3 linked regions of the Homo sapiens genome follow. The protein of the gene in region 1 interacts with the protein of each later gene in a biochemical or structural test. Each region holds a gene or a part of one and is shown in the gene's direction. Other genes may lie near its edges.

What was found. The genes of interacting proteins can lie anywhere in the genome.
Region 2: of the proteins of PFKFB1 (region 1) and PASK, one has a biochemical effect on the other in vitro, tested with the Homo sapiens proteins (one study listed by IntAct).
Region 3: the proteins of PFKFB1 (region 1) and GCK form a complex in vitro, tested with the Homo sapiens proteins (one study listed by IntAct).

What each region holds. Positions count from the first base shown.
Region 1 is NC_000023.11:54,984,169-54,991,194, reverse strand, and holds part of PFKFB1 (6-phosphofructo-2-kinase/fructose-2,6-bisphosphatase 1), read left to right. Parts: intron 1-474; exon of another isoform or gene 475-556; intron 557-7,026. UniProt on the Homo sapiens protein: Synthesis and degradation of fructose 2,6-bisphosphate.
Region 2 is NC_000002.12:241,125,462-241,132,487, reverse strand, and holds part of PASK (PAS domain-containing serine/threonine-protein kinase), read left to right. Parts: intron 1-5,036; coding exon 5,037-6,292; intron 6,293-7,026. UniProt on the Homo sapiens protein: Serine/threonine-protein kinase involved in energy homeostasis and protein translation. Phosphorylates EEF1A1, GYS1, PDX1 and RPS6.
Region 3 is NC_000007.14:44,186,429-44,193,538, reverse strand, and holds the start of GCK (hexokinase-4), read left to right. Parts: upstream 1-4,099; 5' UTR 4,100-4,585; coding exon 4,586-4,630; intron 4,631-7,110. UniProt on the Homo sapiens protein: Catalyzes the phosphorylation of hexose, such as D-glucose, D-fructose and D-mannose, to hexose 6-phosphate (D-glucose 6-phosphate, D-fructose 6-phosphate and D-mannose 6-phosphate, respectively).

The sequences.
Region 1 (7,026 bases):
AAACTTTCTTATGAGTTTTGATAATTTGTATGTAAATGACAGCTTTCATTTTCCCCACAACCCTCATTTTTATCTTTCTTATATTATTACACTGCTAAGACCTCCCGCCTTTAATATACACACACGAGATGTGCAGTACACGTTGAAAAGAAATGTTAATAATGTATATTCTTATGCTGATCCCGATTTTAAGTTTCACCATTGAGCAAATTTGCTGTAGTTTTTTTGGTAGATATCATTTAATAGGTTAAAGACGTTCCTGTTTATTCTGAGTTTGCCAATACAATTTTTAAAAGATGAATGAATATTGAATTTTATTAAACATGTTTTCTGTATTCACTGAAATGACATTAATTTTCTATTTTAACCCATTAATGTGGTACAATACATTAGAGTTTTTCTTGTGTTGAAATAATCTTGCAGTCCTGGGATAAATAAAAACTTCTGAATTTCTTTCACTAATTTTTTGTTTAGGATTTTAGCATTTTGCTCAGGAAAGAGATTGGCCTGTGATTTTTCCAAGAGTGTCAAGATTACACTAACCTCATAAAATCAGGTGGGAACTATTTCCTTTCATTCTGTCCTCTGACAGAGGTTGTCTGCAGAACTAGCCATTCCTCAAATATTTTACCTGGCAGCATTTCCAGGTAAAATATCTGGACCTGGTGTCTCCTTTAACATTTTAACTGATACAATCTCTTTTATCAGTTATAGAGTCCTTTCAGTTTGCTATTTCCACTAAAGTTAGCTTTCTTAAGCTTTCCTAAGTTATGGTTTTCTATGAATTTTTCTACTTCACATAGTTTTCAAATTTATTTTGTGTAAAGTTCTTATCTTTGTATCTTTTTTATCTCTGTTGCATTTGTAGTTATAGCTTCTCTTTCATTATAATATTATTTATTTGCACCTTTTTTCTCTTGATCAATCTTGCTATAAGTTTGACACTTTTATAATTCTAAAATAATCAACTTTTGACTTTTTGATCCTTTTTTATCTTTATTTTCTATTTAACTATTTTTTCATCATTATTCTGTTTCTCCTACTTTCTTTGGATTTATTCTGTTGTTCTTTTTTAACTCATAGAGTTGCCTGCTGCTCAGCTCATTCATTTTCAGACTTTCTTCTTTTCTAATTTAAGTGTCCAATGAGATAATTGGCCTACTAAACAGGGCTGATATTCCACAGATTCACAATCGTATGGCCATATGAATTTTCAGAATATTTCTAGTCCATTTTATAAATAGGCACTCTCCCAGGCTTTTTTAGTCTCTCCAACACTTACCCAGTTACCCTGGCCACCTCAATTCCTTTCCCAGGATAGCCAGGACCTACTGATTATCATCTAGCAACTAAAGGATTAATGCCTACCACAGCAGGAGGCCTCCAGTACTTGGTGCCAGCCCTTGGACCAGCTTCTGTTTTGATAGATCAGTGCTCTTGTCATTTCTATTTTAATTCCATTCTGGTCAGAGAACAAACTTTGTATTATTTCAGTTCTTTGAAATCTGTTGAGACTTGCTTTATGGACCAACTTATGGACAATCTGGTAAATGTTCCAAGAGCACTTGAAAAGAATGTGCGTTTTACAGTTGTGTTTAGTGTACTATATACCTCGATTAAGTTGTGTTTGTTAATCTGGCTCAAATGTTCTATATTCTTCTGGGGTTTTGGCTGCCTGTTGATATGGAAAATTTGTTAATGTTTCCTTGTAATTCTGTCAATCTTGAAAGTTCGTAGTTACAAACAAATTTAGAATTGCTATATCTTCCTTGTGAATTGAATATTTTATCACCATGTAAGGAAATTATTAACTCTGGTAATACCTGGTAATTTGGTATCATTGATGTTTTTGCCCTATAATCAATCTTTTTTCTCATATTAATATACCTACATTAGCTTTATTTAGCTTAATATTTGCCTGGTATGTGTTTTCCTACATTTAAAAAATTGTTTTTGATAGAGATATAATTCACATACCATAAAATTCACCATTTTGAAGTATACAGTGGTTTTGAGTATATTCACATAGTTGTGTAACCATCACCACTAATTCCAGGACATTTTCTTTATGCCAAAAAGGAATTCCATACTCTAGACTCACTCCAGATGACCCTCTCCCCTTAGCCCCTGGCAACCACTAATCTACTTTCAGTCTCAATGAATTTGCCTATTCTGGACATTTTATATAAGGGGAATCATACAATATGTGGCCTTTTGTATCTGGCTCGTTTCTTTGGGCATGTTTTCAAGGTTAATCCATGTTGTAGCATGCAAAGTCACAAAGATATATGCCTAGGCTTTTTTCTAAGAGTTTTATAGTCTTGGCTCTTACATTTAGGTTTTTCAATTTATTCTGAGTTAATATTTGCATGTGGTGTGAGATGGGAATCCAGCTTCGTTCTTTTGCATGTGGCTATCCAGTTGTCCTAGCAGCATTTTTTGAAAAGACTCTTCTTTCCCCTACTTAATTGTCTTGGCACCCTTGATGAAAATCAGGTGACTATAAGTTGAAGGGTTTACTTCTGGGCTCTCAGTTCTATTCCATTTGTTTATATGTATCTCTACCCTTATACCAGTACCACACATTCTTGATTATTGTAGTTTAATTGTAATTTTGAAATTGGGAAGTATGTCTTCTAATTTTGGTCTTTTTCAGATTGTTTTTATGATTGTTTTGGCTATTCTAGGTCCTTTGCATTTCCATATAAATTTTAAGACCAATTTATTAATTTCTGCAAAGAATTAAGCTGAAACTTTGACAGAAGCTGCATTTAATCTATAGATTAGTTAGGGAATATTACCATCTTAACAATAATAAGTTTTAGGTCCCTGAACATGAGATGTTGTTGCATTTACTTAGGTCTTTAATTATATTCACCAATGTTTTGCAGTTTTCAGAGTGTTTTACATTTTTTAAAGTGTTCTTTTAAGCATTTTATTGTTTTGATGCTATTGTAAATAAAATTGTTTTACTTAATTTCATTTTGTTTGCTCATGGCTACTTTATAGAAATGTAATTGATTTTTATATATTGATCTTATATTCTGCAACATTGCTGGACTCATTTATTAGGTCCAATGGTGTTTTTTAGTGCATTCCTTGGGATTTTCTATATACAAGATTATGTTATCTGCAAATAGAAATAATTTCATCTCTTCCTTTCCAATCCAGATGCCTTTTATTTTCTTTTTCTTACCTAATTACCTTGGCTATAACCTCTACTAGAATGTTGAAAAGATGAGATGAAAACAGACATCCTTCTGTTGTTACTGATCTTGGCAGGCGGCATGGGAGAAACTATTCAATCTTTCACCATTAAGTGTGATATTCACTGTGGGTTTTTCATTGGTGTCTTTTATTAGGTTTAGGGCCTTTCCTTCTAGTTTTAATTTGTTGTTGGTTTTATCATGAAGGGGTATTTAATTTCCCAAATGCTTTATCTGTGCCTATTATGATGATCATTTGGTTTTTTTGTCCTTAATTCTATTGATGTGATCTGTTGCATTAATTGATTTTCAAAGGTTAAATCAAGCTTGCATTCCTATAATAAATCTAACTTGATTGTGATGTAAAAAGTATAAGTATAATATATACATATATATAATGTATACATATAAATCCTTTTATACATTCCTGGGTTCAGTTTGCTAGTGTTTTGTGGGGATTTTTACATCCATATTCACAACAGCTATTGGTCTATAATTTTCTTTTCTTCTAATATATGTGCCTAACTTTGGTAGCACGGAAATACTGGCCTCATAGAATGAGTTGGGAAGTGCTTCTTCCTCTTCTACTTTTTGAAAGAGCTTTTGAAGAATCGTATTATTCTTTAAATGTTTGTAGAATTCACCAGTGAAACCATCTAATCCTGGACTTTTCTTTCTGGCAAGGTTTTTCATTACTTATTCAACCCCTTGTTATAGATCTATTTAGATTTCATTTCTTTTTTAGTCAGTTTTGAGAGTTTGTATCATTCTAATAATTTATCTATTTCACCTAAGGCATTTATTGTGTTGGCATACAGTTTATGATTGTTCATAATATTCCCTTATAATTCTTTTTATTTTCATAAAGTCAGTAGTAATGTCTCCTCTTTTTTTCCTGAATTTATTAATTTGAGTTTTCTCTTTTTTTTCTTGGTCAGTCTCACTAAAGGTTTGTCAAGTTTATTAATTTTTTCAAATAACCAACTTTTGATTTTGTTGATTTTTTTCTAATGTTTTCCTAGTCTCTGTTTTATTATTTTCACCTCTAATCCTTATTATATCCTTCTTCTGTTTCCTTTAGGTTCCCATATTTGTGAATTTCCCAAAGTTCTCTCTGTTATTAATTTTTTATTTTACTCCATTATGATTGGAGAACATACTTTATATGATTTCCATTCTTCCAAATTTATTGAAGCTTCTTTTATGGCCTAGAATATTGTCTCTCTTGGAGCATGTTTGATGTACACTTTGGAAAAATGTATAGTCTGCTGTTTGGAGATGGAGTGTTTTACAGATGTTTGTTATTACTACTTTGTGTTGAAGTCCTCTATTTCCCTGTTGTTGATCTTCTATGTAGTTGTTCTATCCATTATTGAAAGAGTGGTCTTGAAGTTTCCAACTATTGTCAGTGGATTGTCTATTTCTCCCTTCAATTCTGCCAGTTTTGCTTCATGTATTTGGCAGCTCTGTTGTTTAGGCATATACGTTTATACTTGTGATATATTCATTATGGATTGACCCTTTTGTCATTATTGAATGTCCCTATATATCTCTAGTAATGTTTTTGAACATCCATTTTGTCTCATATTAGTATGGTCACTCCAAATTTCTTGTGGTTGTTGTTTGCATGATGTATTACTTACGTTATTTTACTTTTAATCTATTTGCTTCTTTCTCTTTTTTCTTCTTTCTTTTTTAGAATAGAGATGGAGTCTCACTATGTTGCCCAGGCTGGTCTCAAACTTCTGGACTCAAGGGATCCTCCCACCTTGGTTTCCCAAAGTGCTCGGATTATAGGCGTGAGCCACCAGGCCTGCCTTGTATCTTTCAGTCTAAAACCTATCTTCTGTAGGCAGCATGCAGTTGGATCTTGTTTGTTTGTATTCAGTTAGATATTCTCTACCTTTTGATTGGGTTGATTAATCTGTTCTGATTTAAAATCATTATTGATATAGTTGGTTTAAATATGCAGTTTTATTTTTCCATAGAGCTCATGTCTTTTTCTCTCTATTCTTCCTTTACTGCTTTCTTTTGCATTAAATGAATTATTCTAGTTTAACTTTTTAATTCATTTGATCATTTTTTATTATATATTTTTTAGGTATATTCTTCGTGGTTGTTCTAGGGCTTTTCACATACATCATACATCAGTGTGCTTCAGATTTGTACTAATTTAATTTCAATGAGATATAAAAATTTTACTCATATATAGCTCTCTTTCACCTTCCTTTTTGAGCTATTATAATATATATATTATATCTGTATATGCTAAAAACTAAATAATACATCATTATAAGTATTATTTTATATAATTTTATGTTTTAAGGAAGCTGAGAAAATTAAGGAGAACATGTATGTATTTATTATTTTCTATTATTTTCATTTGTTCCTGTGGGTTTGAATTACCTTCTGGTATCATTTCCTTATTTCTATATAACTCTTTGCTTTGTGACTTGGCTAGGCTATTTTTAAAGTATGTTTCCCTGCAGTGTGAACCCTTCAGTGTTGCTTCTTGGAGTGCATAGTTTTTGGCTTGCAGGTAATTTGGGCTTTCTTTGACTTTTTCCCAGTCTCTCTATTAAGCTGTCAGCCCACATGGGGGTATTACACTCTAGGCTCCACTAATTACTAGCTGAATGCTGTATTTTGTTTTTGTTTTTTGTTTGTTTGTTTGTTTGGCAGTGTCCTGAAGCATGCATTGCCCAGCAGCCTTATCTAATTAAACTCTAGCAGGAGTAGTTTGTGAAGTAAGTCTTGGAGGTTTCTTCATACCCCAGAAGGGCTCTTCTTACCTGTCCCTCTCTCTCTTGTTCTCTCTGATGAACAAGCTGGCCTATGTTGCTGTTAGTTAAGTGAACTTGTAGTTTTTGAGAACATCCTTGGGCTTGAGCTTCTTTGTACTATGTTAAAAATAAAGTTAGTTTTGGGGGGAGAGTTTCAGAGCTCTCTCATCTTATGAATTTCTTCTCTCCATGGGTATACTGTCTGAGCACTGTTCTGGGTGCTGGGCGAGACAGCAGCTTCTGGTCTTAGTTTGCCTATCCTGGTGTGGAACCTACCCTGTGAGCAAGATGGAATGAGGGTAATCAGGACCTCAGTATTCTTAGCCTATTGCACCTGGTATATAGCCTCCATTCTATGAGTAAAAACTGGGAGGAGGAAGGGATCCTCCAACCTCTTAACCACACTTGCCAGGAATTTAGCCTCTGCAATTCTGAGCTGAAGGGAATGCTAAATGCTAGCTCTCTGCTCCTTCCAGTAAGATGCCAAAGTATTGATGGGACATTCTCTCCAAGACGAAAGGGAGCTTCATCTTGGCTATACACACCTTAAGTGGAGCTTCTATCAAGCTAAGCTTGGAGCCAGTAGTGAGGGGACAGTAGTAAGGTCGGGAACAGTAGCATGGCACATGTATCAAAGACTGTGTTCTTACCACATTTCAGTAGATTTTCTTGAATAAAAATATCTTCATGTACTGTATTCCATTAAGACAATTTCCAGAGATTTTAAAAGGTTGTTGTGTTGTAATTTTGCCAGCTGAGCTTGTTTTATTAGAGAATGGGTCTTTAGAGCTCCTCATGCTGTCATGCCAGAAATGAAAGTCTCAAGATTGTCTTTGTGTGTTGATCTTGTATCTTGCAGCCTTGATGAACTCACTTGTTAGTTCGAGGAATTTCTGTAGTTTAGGGGGATATTTCTATGTAGACAATCATGACATTTGCAAATAGGGATTTTTTAAAAATTATTTTCCAAACCGTATGCCTTTTATTTCCTTTTATTGCCTTATTGCAGTGGTTAGAACTTCTAGTACTATGTCAAA
Region 2 (7,026 bases), on another chromosome or scaffold:
GTGCGATCTCAGCTCATTGCTCATTGCATTGCAAGCTCCGCCTCCCGGGTTCACACCATTCTCCTGCCTCAGCCTCCCGAGTAGCTGGGGACTACAGGCGCCCGCCACCACGCCCGGTTACTTTTTTGTATTTTTTTTAGTTTCACCATGTTGGCCAGGATGGTCTCGATTTCCTGACTTTGTTATCCACCCGCCTTGGCCTCCCAAAGTGCTGGGATTAATTTTATCATTTTCAAAGTCATATGAAGCTGTTCTCTTTGCACATTTTAAAATATTCTATTTAGAGTAAAGAAAGTTTATATTAGAGAATTAGGAACATTTGGAAAAGTAGAAATAAAAACTTGTTCTATTCTCATAGTCGTATTGTACATAGCACGTGTGTGTGTATTTTTAACCCATTTTCTTCTTCGGAATCTTTTTTTTTTTTTTTTTTTTGAGATGGAGTCTCACTCAGCTGCCCAGGCTAGAGTGCAGTGGCGTGATCTTGGTTCACTGTAACTTCTGCCCCCTGGTTCAAGTGATTCTCCTGCCTCAGCCTCCTGAGTAGCTGAGACTACAGGCACCTGCCACCACGCCCGGCTAATTTTTGTATTTTTACTAGAGGCGGGGTTTCACTATGTTGGCCAGACTGGTCTCGATCCCTTGACCTCATGGTCCACCCGCCTTGGCCTCCCAAAGTCCTGGGATTACAGGTGTGAGCCACCATACCTGACCCAGAATCTTTTCTTATGCACAGCATGCAGTAAAGGTGCCCAAACTGTAGGTGCCCAGGTGGCCCAGGACCCTTTCTTGGCTGCCTGCAGACCCTGGGTCCCTTCCTGCACTGTGCCCCCTACACCCTGCTGCCCTGGGTCAGGGCAGAGGTTAGACTGCCTGCCGTTGAGCCTGACGCATGCATTTCCTTCTGTCTGCCTTCTGCTTATTGCTGTGTCTGTGATATTTATCCACATAGTTGTGTTTTCTAGTCTTGAAATTATTTAAAAAATATGTAATAGATACATATAAAGTATGTATGTATGTTTAAAAATATGTAATGCATGGGCCAGGCGCGGTGGATCACGCCTATAATCCCAGCACTTTGGGAGGCTGAAGTGGGTGGATCATGAGGTCGGCAGATGGAGACCATCCTGGCTAACACGGTGCAACCCCGTCTCTACTAAAAATACAAAAAATTAGCCAGGCATGGTGGCGGGCGCCTGTAGTCCCAGCTACTCGGGAGGCTGAGGCAGGAGAATGGTGTGAACCTGGGAGGCGGAGCTTGCAGTGAGCCTAGATCGCGCCACTGCACTCCAGCCTGGGCGACAGAGTGAGACTCCGTCTCAAAAAAAAAAAAAAAATGTAATACATGCATATGTGTTTTTTTAATTATAGAAGAATAATGGTAAAAGCAATAGTTCCCCTGGCCGTCTTCCAATCCCCCTCCTCCAATCCTACTCTTTCCCCCAGGGGACCGCAGTCAGCAGTTAGAGCCTTCCAGGCCTTCTTTCTTGTGCATTTAACTATAGTTGTATATTATACTTCTATGTGTGCATGTGCATATGTGTGCTCACATGTAACTGCTTCTGTTCCCTGAGCACGGCTGGGATTATACCATACACAGTGTCCTAAATGTGTGTGTATGTGTACGCACACACATGTCCTGCAGATCTTCCTCTACAGGCCTCCTCGGAACCGAAGCCTCCTGGATGGCACCCTAGCTCATGGGCCACTTTCCCACTGGCCGATGTGCCGGTGCTTTCTCTTGTTTGCTTAGCCTCCCTGATTTTCCCTTTGCCACTGTGGGTCCGCGTTGAGTGGCGTGAGAGGGTAGCTGTTGGCTCTATTTGCTCTACTTCCACTGCGAGTGGAACAGAGCAGGCGCTCAACACGTGAGTTTTCAATATTACTATGAATAATATTGCTGTGCGCACCTCTCCAGAGGTGCCACCAAGCTGAAGTGGGGCGGCCGTGGTTGAGGGCCCAAGTCTGACCCGTGGGTGCTCAACAGCACTAGCGGCCGGGCCCCCTTGCCAGTGCTCCCGTTGTCTGGGACATCTTGGTGGACAGAGGCCACGTGGCCCGTTGCTATCCTCAGGACCTTGGACACAACTCATCTTCCAGGACTTGGTGGTACCAAGGGAGTTGCCCAAGATCAGCCAATTCCTAGTCTTTCTATTGCATTGGACGTTTCTGGATGTCACAGTTCTGAGAGTTTGATTAGCATCCACTGCACAGCTAGTGCAGTTATGACTATAGAGATTTATCCATTCATTCCCCGCTCAGTCATTCACTCACTCGTTCGCTTATTCAACAAATAAGCATTACAGAAGACTTGGGGTGTGTCCCTAAGAATTGTAGTCTGGTCAGGACAATAAGCTGAAACAGTAAGACAGAACAGGGTTAGGAAGCATGAAGGAAGGAGGTGAGCTGTACGGAGTGCTTTTGTGTTTTAGGGACTACGTTGGGTGCTTCCTCGTAAGTTGTCTCCTTTAGTTCTCCTGGTAATCCTGGGAGTGTAGTCTGATTTTTAGCAAATGGATGCTGAAGCTGAGTGAATTGTTACACTGGGCATCAGGTCCTCGAAGAGACCCCAGGTGATGTGCTCAGACAGCAGGTGGGGGTCTCGGGTCTCCACGGGGGTCAGGTCCTGGTGCTTCCCCACTGGAGGACCTACGGTCCCTGGGGCTGCCCTGGGTTGAGGTCCCAGCAGCTCAAGGCCTGTGTGCAGTCGGCAGATCACATCCTTCATGCCCTGACTGCATGCTGGCCAGAACTGAGTGGCGTGGCGATGCCTGGCTGCCAGGGCAGCTGGAGGATGTCCTCATGTTTCCTGAGTTGCTGTCATGCTGAAAGTCAGAGATCCACAGTTTCACAATCTCTTAGCCAAAATTATGAAATCCAAAAAGCCCCCAACACTGAAATATTTTTCTTAGAATTGATGCTAAAAGCATTGGACGGTCAAATTGGCCCTAAGCACGTGAGAAGCTGTTTGTGGTTTTCCCTTGACCTCTGCAGTTTGAGTGTTCAGAGGCCTTGCTGCAGACACAGGGCAGTGGATGCCCGTGAAGCCCTCTCCCCAGCCTGCTGGGGTCTCCCTAGCAAGTGGTCATATGACTTTTCTGAAATCCCCAAACACATCTGGCCCAAGGGTTTTGATGGAAGGGCCGTGGACCCAGGTGACTGTGGAGAGAACGGGTACTGAGGCTGCAGCAGCCCGCTAAGGCCCCAAGAGCATGGGTGAAGATGCAGTGCTGCCCAGGGGCCTCAGCTTTGTGTCTGGACTGTGCCCCAGAAGTTGCCCAGACTCTTTGGCAAGGGGCTTTGTGAGACCCTCGTGGTGTGCATTCGCCTCCTGTCTTACCTGATCCTGCAGGAGGATGTGCAGTTTCCTAGCATTTGCATGGGGTTTGTCTCAAGCATGGGATGGATGGAGAGCGGGAGAGGGAGGTACAGGGGAGAGAGAGATGGGAGACATGGAGGGAGAGAGGCGGGAGACATGGAGGGAGAGAGGCAGGCAGACGCAGACCCTCAGCCTCCCCCTCAGTTCCCCTCAGAAAACTGCTTTTCCTCAGAACTTGGCTCACAATCCCTTTCTCTGTGGAACCCACCCTTGGGTTGTATCCTTCCTCTTCCGTCTTTTTTTTTTTGAGATGGTCTTGGCCATTGCCCAGGCTGGAGTGCAGTGGTGCGATCACAGCTCACTGCAGCCTAGACTCCTGTGCTCAAGCGAGGTTCCCGCTTCAGCCTCCCAAGTAGCTGAGACTACAGGTGTGTGTCACCACGCTGGCTAATTTTTAAATGTTTTGTAGAGACGAGGTCTCACTATGTTGCCCAGGCTGGTCTCGAACTCCTGGGCTCAGCCTCCCACAGTGCTGGGATTACAGGTGTGGGCCACTGTGCCCGATCCTGTCCTCTTTCTGAGCCTCTGGTATACCTTTATTAGGTTGCTGATGTTAACCTGTGTGTCTGTCCCCGAGTGAGGTGGTGCGGTCACATTCTGTGCATCTGGTGCCCAGTGTCAGTCTGTCATGTGGAGGCCAGTGGCTGGGCTGACAGGAGGCCTGGGTCCCTTGGCTCTGTGATCATCCTGTCTGGACTGTGGCAGCCTCCTCATGGGTCACCATGTGCTGAATGCTGGAGGACATTGTGTGCCACCTCTTAGGAGCCGCCCTCACCAGCCTCCTCTCTCTTTTTCGGCCCGTGTCCCCTTCTTTTTTTGTTTGTGTTTGAGACGGAGTCTCACTCTGTCACCCATCTCACCAGTGAGCTGGTACAATCTCAGCTCACTGCAACCTCTGCCTCCCAGGCTCAAACCATTCTCCTGCCTCAGCCTCCAAGTAGCTGGGATTATAGGTGCCTGCCACCTCACCGGGCTAATTTTTGTATTTTTAGTAGAGACAGGACTTTGCCATGTTGGCCAGTCTGGTCTCGAACCTCCTGACCTCAAGTGATCTGCCCACCTCGGCCTCCCAAAGTGCTGGGATTACAGGCGTGAGCCACCACGCCCGGCCCCCTGGCCCCTGGCCCCTTCTGTGTGGGCCCCATCTGAGAGCCATTTCCCAAATCTGAGAGCCATTTCCCTAGTCGGCTGTGAAATCGGATGGTGTTTGTAGTCAATCAGTTGTTTTTTTACTGTTGTGGAGTTTACCAGGGACTCTCCAATCTCTCTCTCGTTTCCTCTCACACCTCCTCAAGGCAGCAGCACGGACTTCCCCTTGCAGGTGGGGCCGAGGCTAGGCTGCACGGCTGACGGGGGGTTTGGGGGCCCTGAGATGAAGCGAGAGCGCTGACCAAAGCATTGGCAAGTTCTCCTGTACTTTACTGTTGGGCTTTTGGTAGCATTCTCTGCAAAATCATTTCTAAATGTGGACTTAATTTGGAGAAATTTGAGACTAAGTGCTTTATTTTTTAACTTGGTCACAAAATTTGGTCTTTTTCTTGTTATAAATTGGTGGCATTAAATGCTTTGTACTTAGTTCTAATGGAGAATCGGTGCAATCTCTCCTTTTGACTCATCTGTGGCCCTACATGATGGTCACCCATGTCATTATCCCCAGGGTGGACAATGTCCCAGAAGGAAGCCTGCCAGTGCACGGTGAACAGGCGCTGCCCAAGGACCAGCAAATCACTGCCTTGGGGAGAGAGGAACCTGTGGCAATAGAGAGCCCCGGACAGGATCTTCTGGGAGAAAGCAGGTCTGAACCAGTGGATGTGAAGCCATTTGCTTCCTGCGAAGATTCTGAAGCTCCAGTCCCAGCTGAGGATGGGGGCAGTGATGCTGGCATGTGTGGCCTGTGTCAGAAGGCCCAGCTAGAGCGGATGGGAGTCAGTGGTCCCAGCGGTTCAGACCTTTGGGCTGGGGCTGCCGTGGCCAAGCCCCAGGCCAAGGGTCAGCTGGCGGGGGGCAGCCTCCTGATGCACTGCCCTTGCTATGGGAGTGAATGGGGCTTGTGGTGGCGAAGCCAGGACTTGGCCCCCAGCCCCTCTGGGATGGCAGGCCTCTCGTTTGGGACACCTACTCTAGATGAGCCGTGGCTGGGAGTGGAAAACGACCGAGAAGAGCTGCAGACCTGCTTGATTAAGGAGCAGCTGTCCCAGTTGAGCCTTGCAGGAGCCCTGGATGTCCCCCACGCCGAACTCGTTCCGACAGAGTGCCAGGCTGTCACCGCTCCTGTGTCGTCCTGCGATCTGGGAGGCAGAGACCTGTGCGGTGGCTGCACGGGCAGCTCCTCAGCCTGCTATGCCTTGGCCACGGACCTCCCTGGGGGCCTGGAAGCAGTGGAGGCCCAGGAGGTTGATGTGAATTCGTTTTCCTGGAACCTCAAGGAACTCTTTTTCAGTGACCAGACAGACCAAACGTCATCAAATTGTTCCTGTGCTACGTCTGAACTCAGAGAGACACCCTCTTCCTTGGCAGTGGGCTCCGATCCAGATGTAGGCAGTCTCCAGGAACAGGGGTCGTGTGTCCTGGATGACAGGGAGCTGTTACTACTGACCGGCACCTGTGTTGACCTTGGCCAAGGCCGACGGTTCCGGGAGAGCTGTGTGGGACATGATCCAACAGAACCGCTTGAGGTTTGTTTGGTGTCCTCTGAGCATTATGCAGCAAGCGACAGAGAAAGCCCAGGACACGTTCCTTCCACGTTGGATGCTGGCCCTGAGGACACGTGCCCATCAGCAGAGGAGCCAAGGCTGAACGTCCAGGTCACCTCCACGCCCGTGATCGTGATGCGCGGGGCTGCTGGCCTGCAGCGGGAGATCCAGGAGGGTGCCTACTCCGGGAGCTGCTACCATCGAGATGGCTTACGGCTGAGTATGTCCCGGGCCCCATAGGAAGAAGTGTGGTGCTCCCAGAGCACAGTGCAGTGGGGGTGCAGGGCCTTCCTTGTTCTGGGGTCTGATGGGGTTTCACCCTGGAATAGTGTTAGCAGAAATCATGTTTTCAAGGAGAATGCATATCATCCACCCCTAGAAAATTAAGATTACGAATGTGTGTGCCTGGGGAGGGTGGCGCCCAAGGTCCCAGGCCACCTGCCCCATGCCCGTCAGTTCCAGCTGTGCCCCCTGACTCAGGCCATACACTTAGAGAGCCGCTCCTCCCAGCAGCCTGGGGAGATCCCGTCGGGAGCAGGAGAAGCGTGGGGGTGTCACGCTAGAGTCTGTCTCTCCACCTCCCACCAGCCCCCACCTCAGTGGTCACACAGACAGGCCGAGAGGGATGTGAGCGTGGTGAGATGCTCACGTGTTCTTCTTCCGTGCTTTTGGTGTTTAGGCTGCCCTGATCTCTGAAAAACCTGCCCTTCTGTGAGGGTCATGTGATCGGGCCCCTCTGCTTGCCCCTTTGAGATTGATTCTGTTTTACTTTCTTTTTTATTTTCATTTCTTTTTTTTTTTTTTTTCTTTTTTTTTGAGACAGAGTCTCTCTCTGTTGCCCAGGCTGGAGTGCAGTAGCGCGATCTCAGCTTACTGCAAGCTCCGCCTCCCGGGTTCATGCCATTCTCCTGCCTCAGCCTCCCTAGTAGCTGGGACTACAGGCACCCACCAGCA
Region 3 (7,110 bases), on another chromosome or scaffold:
CAATCAGAGCAAAGCCCAGGACTTTCTTCGACTCTTAAGAAAAGAGAAGCAAAGTAACTGGCACAGATTGGAGAGGATCAAGGAACCCCGAGCTGGATACATACAAACTTTGGGTTAACATGGATGATTAAATACATATGTTTATGTGAACCACCTCCCAAATATGCTCCACTATAATGACACAAGACAAAGGGCAGGGGGAGACCAATTGCAAGGTGGCGCAAATGAGAGATGCTACCAAGGGTGGCGGGGGAGAGAGGGGAGCAGTTGTCAAGTTAGGAGGCAACAGGCTGAGGGACAGGGACCAGCAGACGGGGAGGGAGGGGCTGAAGCAGAAGTGTCCAGTGTCTGGAGGGATGGGGCCAGAAAGGCAAGGGGCATCCTGAAGAAGCTATACCTGGGGAGGGCAGCTCTCTCCCCACCTGCTCCCCAATTCATCAGCCAGGAATGCCCCATCCACCCCACCCCAGGGAGGAGGACAGAGGACTTTCGTTTGGGAGCATTGAATGGTTCAGAGATTCTGCAACTCTGCGGTCCCCAACTAAACTGCTCATTGTTTCAAGCAGTCCCTGTTGGGTAAATGTCCCCCATTGTAACCGGACTCGGATTCCACCGCTTGAAAGCCAAATACAAGAGGAGAGGTTTGGTGGGAGGAAAAGTGGTTTTAACTAGAGCCAGCAAACCAAGAAGATGGTGAATTGTTGTTTTAAAGCATTCAATTATCTCAAATTTTAAAATTTATCATAGGATTCTGAAAGGAAAACTTGGTATGGGACATACGTGGGAGCAGTGCAGGGTACAGGGTCTATGTGTCTTGATCCAATGGCTGTCTTGAGTATCACCTATCCTGAGGTCTGGTTGGTGTTATCTTTCCTTCGGCCAGATGGTGGTGGGTGAATTGTTTCGACTCCCCCTAAGTTGGAGGATTCCGCAGGGGTTCCGTGTCTGGTTTTTGTTTCAAGATTAGCCCCTGGAATTCCCAAATAAGCATAGAGTTAGATAAGCGGGCATGGTGCAAAGGAGTGTCTAGTGGGAAAGGGAGAGAAGCAGAGTTTCAAAGTACATTTCAAGGTTACATTTTAAGACTAAAGAAAAAGCCTTAAAATGCATTTTTAAAGCTGATTTAATGCTTGGCTACACTAGGCTGTGGCCAGTGTGCAGTGTGGCTGCTCTTGGATCAGGTGATGTTTCATCAGCTGTGTCCAGGGAGGGCAGGGCCATGTGGCAGAACCTGGGACCTCTGTGTGAGGGACTACCTTGGCCCCTGTCCTTAGCAGGAAGCTATGGTAAGGAACCCTTAGGGAGACATTAAATTGGGGAGACCGTCCCTGCCAATCCTTTAACCTCCCCAGCCTCAGCGACCTCAGTTGGAAAGTGGTGGTAATAATACTACCACTGACCAGGTGTGGTGGCCAGACATTCCACACTTTGGCTTCAGCCGCTCCCTCCCCACTCTACTGTAATCCCAGCACTTTGGGAGGAAGAGGTAGGCGGAACCTGAGGTCTGGAGTTGAGACCAGCCTGGTCAACATGGTGAAACCCCATATCTACTAAAAAGAAAGTACAAAAAATTAGCCAGGTGCAGTGGCACACGTGTGTGGTCCCAGCTACTCGTGGGTCTGAGGCATGAAAATTGTTTGAGCCTGGGAGGCAGAGGTTCCATTGAGTGGAGATCGAGCCACTGCACTCCAGCCTGGGTGATAGAACGAGATTCTGTCTCAAAAAAATAAAAATAAAATAATAATAATAATACCACTGCCTGCCACACTAAGATTGTCTGATTAGATGACAGAATGAATGCAAAAGTACTTTGTGAATCATAAATGTTTTCATCAATATTAGTTATAATGACAATTGCTCCTTCTCCTAATAAATGTATTGCCTTTCTTTAGGAATAAATATAACAAGAAATGTGTAAGATATATATGAGAAAAATAATAAAATTCACCTGAAGGACATAAAAGAAGACCAAAATAAATGAAACAACACATACTTCTAGATGAGAAAACTCAATATTATAAAGAGGTTAGTTCTCTAAAATGAATCCCTAAACCCACAAAGTCAATGTATTTCCAATGAAATTGTCAACAGCATTATTTTCCGAAGTGGGATGAGTAGTGCTAAGATTTATAAGAAAGCCAACATTCCAGAGCAGTGGGGAAGGGATTGCTTCACCACCAAATAGCCATATTAGAGATTCCCTTGCACCATACCCAAACCACCATCTCCCAGGACCCGGGAGAGCAGAAAAGAGGAATGAGAAGAAAGGCGAGGATGTGAGGTGTGCCCTCATAATGGCGGTGCACGCAGCACAAGCAATTGCAGAAAGACTAAAGTACTGAACAAATAGAAAACTTGGAAAAATATTAGAAGGAAATGTGGGAGAACATTTTTGCAATTTGGGGATTGGAAACGGTTTTCTTAACAAGATATAAAAACCCCAAAACAAGAAAACAAAGGTTGAAATTCATAAAAACTAGATACTTCTGTATGATGAAAGACACGATTAATCAAGTTGTTAAGTTTAGCAATAGACTAGGGGAGATATCATAGTATATTTAACAGACAAAGGATTAATAGATACTACAGATGAAATATAAAATAGTTTCTCCAAGTCCATAGGCAGAAGATAATCCAATAGCAACATAGTTAAGTAATGTAAACAAATCATCCTTAGAAGAAGAAATGCAATCACCAAGAAACACATGAAAAGGTGTCCAGCATTTTGCAATTCAAGCAACAATGAGGTGACAGATCGGCAAAAAACTCATAAAGATTTATCATCTGAAGGATTGGCCAAGATAAAGCCAAACTTCTCGTGTTGGCAGAAGAAACTGGTGAAGCCATGTGAAGAGGCCACGTGGTCCTGCCTACCAAGATGTAAAATGTGTACAGCATTTGAACTAGCAATTCAGCCTCCAGGAGCCATCCAGAAGAAACACTGACACACACTTAGACTCCGGTGAAATTCAAGGACTTCTGCCACAGCCTGCTTCGTAATAGTGAAAATCTGAAACTGCCTCAATGACCGTCAATAGGAAGTTGATTTTAAAGTGTTACAGCACATCTGTCTGGAGAGATCGCACTGGCCACTCCTCCTCACCCCCTCTGCTGGACCTCTGAGCGTAGGTGGCCTGGAGCTGGGTCCTGAGCCCTCTTTGGTCTATACCGACACTACCCAATATGGTAGCCACCAGTCACGCTGGACACTTGAAAAGTGGCCGATCCTGACTGAGAAGGGCCACGAGTGGGAAAAACACACCAGACCTCAGTGACTTAGGCAGAAGTATGTTTTGTTCCAGACTATTGACTGAGCCCGCAGCTGAGTTGGCTCCAGCACCCTGGCCCCCTGCTCCATCCACTCACTGGGACTCCCCACTGCACAGGGCAACCTCTCCAGGGGCACTTGGGCTGCGAAGGGGAGAGTGGGTGGCATCCCAGGCTGAAGCTTCCTGAGCAGGGCCAGAGGAGGAGCCAGTCCCTGTGGGCCTCTGTTCTGACAGTGTCAACCTCAGCCAGGCTTGTGTGGGCCAGGTGTACTGTTCTGGTTCAGATTTCAAGGAGATAGTCAGGGCAGGCCGCGCCAAAGCCCTCCGATGGGCTCCCCTACTGCCTGGCAGACCTGTCCAGCTTTGGACTCTGGCCCTGCGACCTGGAAGTCAGGCTGCCAAGAGGTCCAGGCAGTGGCCTCCACTGTGGAGGGTCTCTGGAGAGTTTACAGCCCTAGATAGGGGGGTTAGGGATGTGAGATGGTCCCAGGGGCCTGCTCCTGAGCCACGCCAAGCTGCCTGCTCCCTTTCCTCTGCTTCCAGACTCACGGGATCCTCTGCTCATCAGAACAGGAGTGTGGGAGACCCTGAGACACTGCCCCAGGATCTGAACAGGTGGCAAAGGCTTAACAGGCTAGCGGTCACTGTAGTGACAAGGCGATTGAGTGGTCACCATGGTGATGGGGATGGAGGCTCTTTGCCACCAGTCCCAGTTTTATGCATGGCAGCTCTAATGACAGGATGGTCAGCCCTGCTGAGGCCACTCCTGGTCACCATGACAACCACAGGCCCTCTCAGGAGCACAGTAAGCCCTGGCAGGAGAATCCCCCACTCCACACCTGGCTGGAGCAGGAAATGCCGAGCGGCGCCTGAGCCCCAGGGAAGCAGGCTAGGATGTGAGAGACACAGTCACCTGCAGCCTAATTACTCAAAAGCTGTCCCCAGGTCACAGAAGGGAGAGGACATTTCCCACTGAATCTGTCTGAAGGACACTAAGCCCCACAGCTCAACACAACCAGGAGAGAAAGCGCTGAGGACGCCACCCAAGCGCCCAGCAATGGCCCTGCCTGGAGAACATCCAGGCTCAGTGAGGAAGGGTCCAGAAGGGAATGCTTGCCGACTCGTTGGAGAACAATGAAAAGGAGGAAACTGTGACTGAACCTCAAACCCCAAACCAGCCCGAGGAGAACCACATTCTCCCAGGGACCCAGGGCGGGCCGTGACCCCTGCGGCGGAGAAGCCTTGGATATTTCCACTTCAGAAGCCTACTGGGGAAGGCTGAGGGGTCCCAGCTCCCCACGCTGGCTGCTGTGCAGATGCTGGACGACAGAGCCAGGATGGAGGCCGCCAAGAAGGAGAAGGTATCTCGCCCTCCATTGGGCATTCTGGGAGTGTTTGCTTGCCTGTCCCCAACATTCCATGGTTTGTTTGAGCCTCAGAATCTGATTTTATGCACAGGCTCTTTGAGAAGGGTCTTGCCAGGGGTGCCTTCTGGGGCAGGAAGGCCCCTACTGCCTGGCAGACCCATCCAGCTTTGGACTCTGGTCCTGCGACCCGGAAGTCAGGCTGCCAAGAGGTCCAGGCAGTGGCCTCCACTGGGGAGGGGCTCTGGAGAGTTTAGAGCCCTAGATGTGGGGGTTAGGGACATGAGGTCTTGTGGACAAAGCCCACTACCTGATTTTGAGACAACACTCACTAGACATGGTGACAAGTCAAAGATGCCTTGCCTCCTACCAGGAATCACTTCGCAGGGAGCCCGAGGGCTGCTGTGGCCTGCTGAGGAGTGCAGGGCAGTTACTTTTTCCAAAAACAAAGAGAAATCCAGGCATGCTCTGAGCCAGCCCTGAGCCCAGCAGTGAGCAAGGAGAGAGCTGGAGACAGGGGACTTTGCTGTGAAACACTGGGGGGAATGTGCCTGCATCACCCCAGCTGGGGGCCCAGGCAGAGTGGGGGAGAAGGGGTAAGTGGGCAGAGCCAGTCACTTTGGGCATGCTTCCCTCTCGCCTCTGTGTGAAATGACCAGGTCAGCATAAACCCCGGGCTGGCTGTGCTTCTGGCAGAGCTAATGATGTTAGGAGGAAAACAACCAACCCAAGTGAGAGGGTGCGCAGCCAGACAGCTGGACCGGCCGAGGCCCCAACCAAGTCCCAGATCTGCCTGTCACTGGTGCTATGGCAGCAATTTGGATGAGAAATCCTGCCCAAAGGGCCCCTTCAGGCCACCCGGGGAGAAGGAAGCGGCTGTCTTTGGCATGACCAGAAAGATGGCTCGGAGCTAGGGAGAGGTGGACATGTGGGCTGTGGAGATCTGGCACTTTCCCCAAACAAGGAGAGAAAGCATAGTGTGCCTATGTGTGAATGTGCTATGTGTGCATGTTTGTGCCTGTGCATACCTGCATGTGTACATGCATGTGCACATATGTGTGCACAGGGAATCACTTTAATAAAGGCCACAGCAGAGCTGTCCCTGAGCCCCTTGCATTCACAGTGGCATGTGAGTGAACCACCTTCTTAGGCTGGGCATCCAGTCTCAGACTCTGGGGCTGCCCATGCCCCATCCTTTATCTGCTCCACGTGTGAGGGGTTGCTGGTCCTGACCAGGGCCAGCTGTGAACCCCAGAATCCTGGGAAGTCACTGACATTCTTGTCAGGGCCAAGAGTGGAGCAAGGCAATGCCTCGGGCACAAACTTTAAGGGGTCACCAGAAACATCAATCATCAAGATATATGCTATTTTAAATAATCAAAATGAATGCAAAAAAAATTTATGATGGACAACATACCAAATTCTAAACAAAGGCAGGATGAGTATCACTGGCTTCTGCACTTTTCTCCACCCAGTCTACCCCTCTTCTAGTGCCTGGATCGCAGGGTGCCAAGGCCTGGATGAGGGAAGCGTGGAGCTGCAATGGCCACTCCTGTCTGCCTGTTCTGGCTGCACAGAGGACTCAGTCCTTGTCTTGGGGGAACCTATCTTGGTTTTAGGGTCATCCTAAGGATCTGATGTTTTCCAAGTGAGCTGGCTGTCCAGGCCCACCCAGGTTCAGTCCAGTCCTGTGTCTCTGGGAAGTGCTGCCCCTACCCCAAGCCAGTGTTTGACCTTGGAGCAATGAGCAATGCCCTCCTTCCACTTTCAAAGTTGTCCCCAAGACGTCAGCTGTGGTTGTCTCTGTGCAGACACCGAGGAGGAACTGTCTTCTTTCTCCTTTTGGTTGCTTTGGAGGAAAGTAAAGTGTTGCTGGTTTCCCTCTTTCTACTTCTTTGATTGAGAGCAGCCGTCTTGCCGGTACCAACCTTCCAGATCTTACCTGTGGTTGCAGGAGCCTGTGGCCTCAGTCCTGTGCCCAGTGACTTCTCCATGTGGATGTCAGCTCCTTAGGGGCAAGCCTGATTCCACTGACACTACTCCCACCCCTCATAAGCCCCTTCTTACCAGCTGCAGTTGCCTGGTACCCCACCATCGCTGACTCATTCCTTTGGCATCAAGGTTCATCCCTTACTGGGCCACCACTTCTGGGTGGCCTGAAATAGGGCCCTGGGCATCCCTCTTGGGGACCTTTTGGTCTATATTTTCACTCTCACCTCACTAAGGACAGATGAGTAAATCTGGTTAACTTTGCCTGATAGATTTGGTGACCTTTTTTCAGGAAGGAGCCTGGAAAGATGAGATTCAGGTGTATTGGTCAGCTTAGACTGCCATAAGAGAATACCATCCACTGATGGCTTAGAAACAACAGAAATCTATTTCTCACTATTCTAGAGGCTGGACGTCCAAGATCAGATGCCAGCATGGTCAGGTTGCAGGGAGGGCTCTCTTCCTGACTTGCAGACCGCCACCTTCTT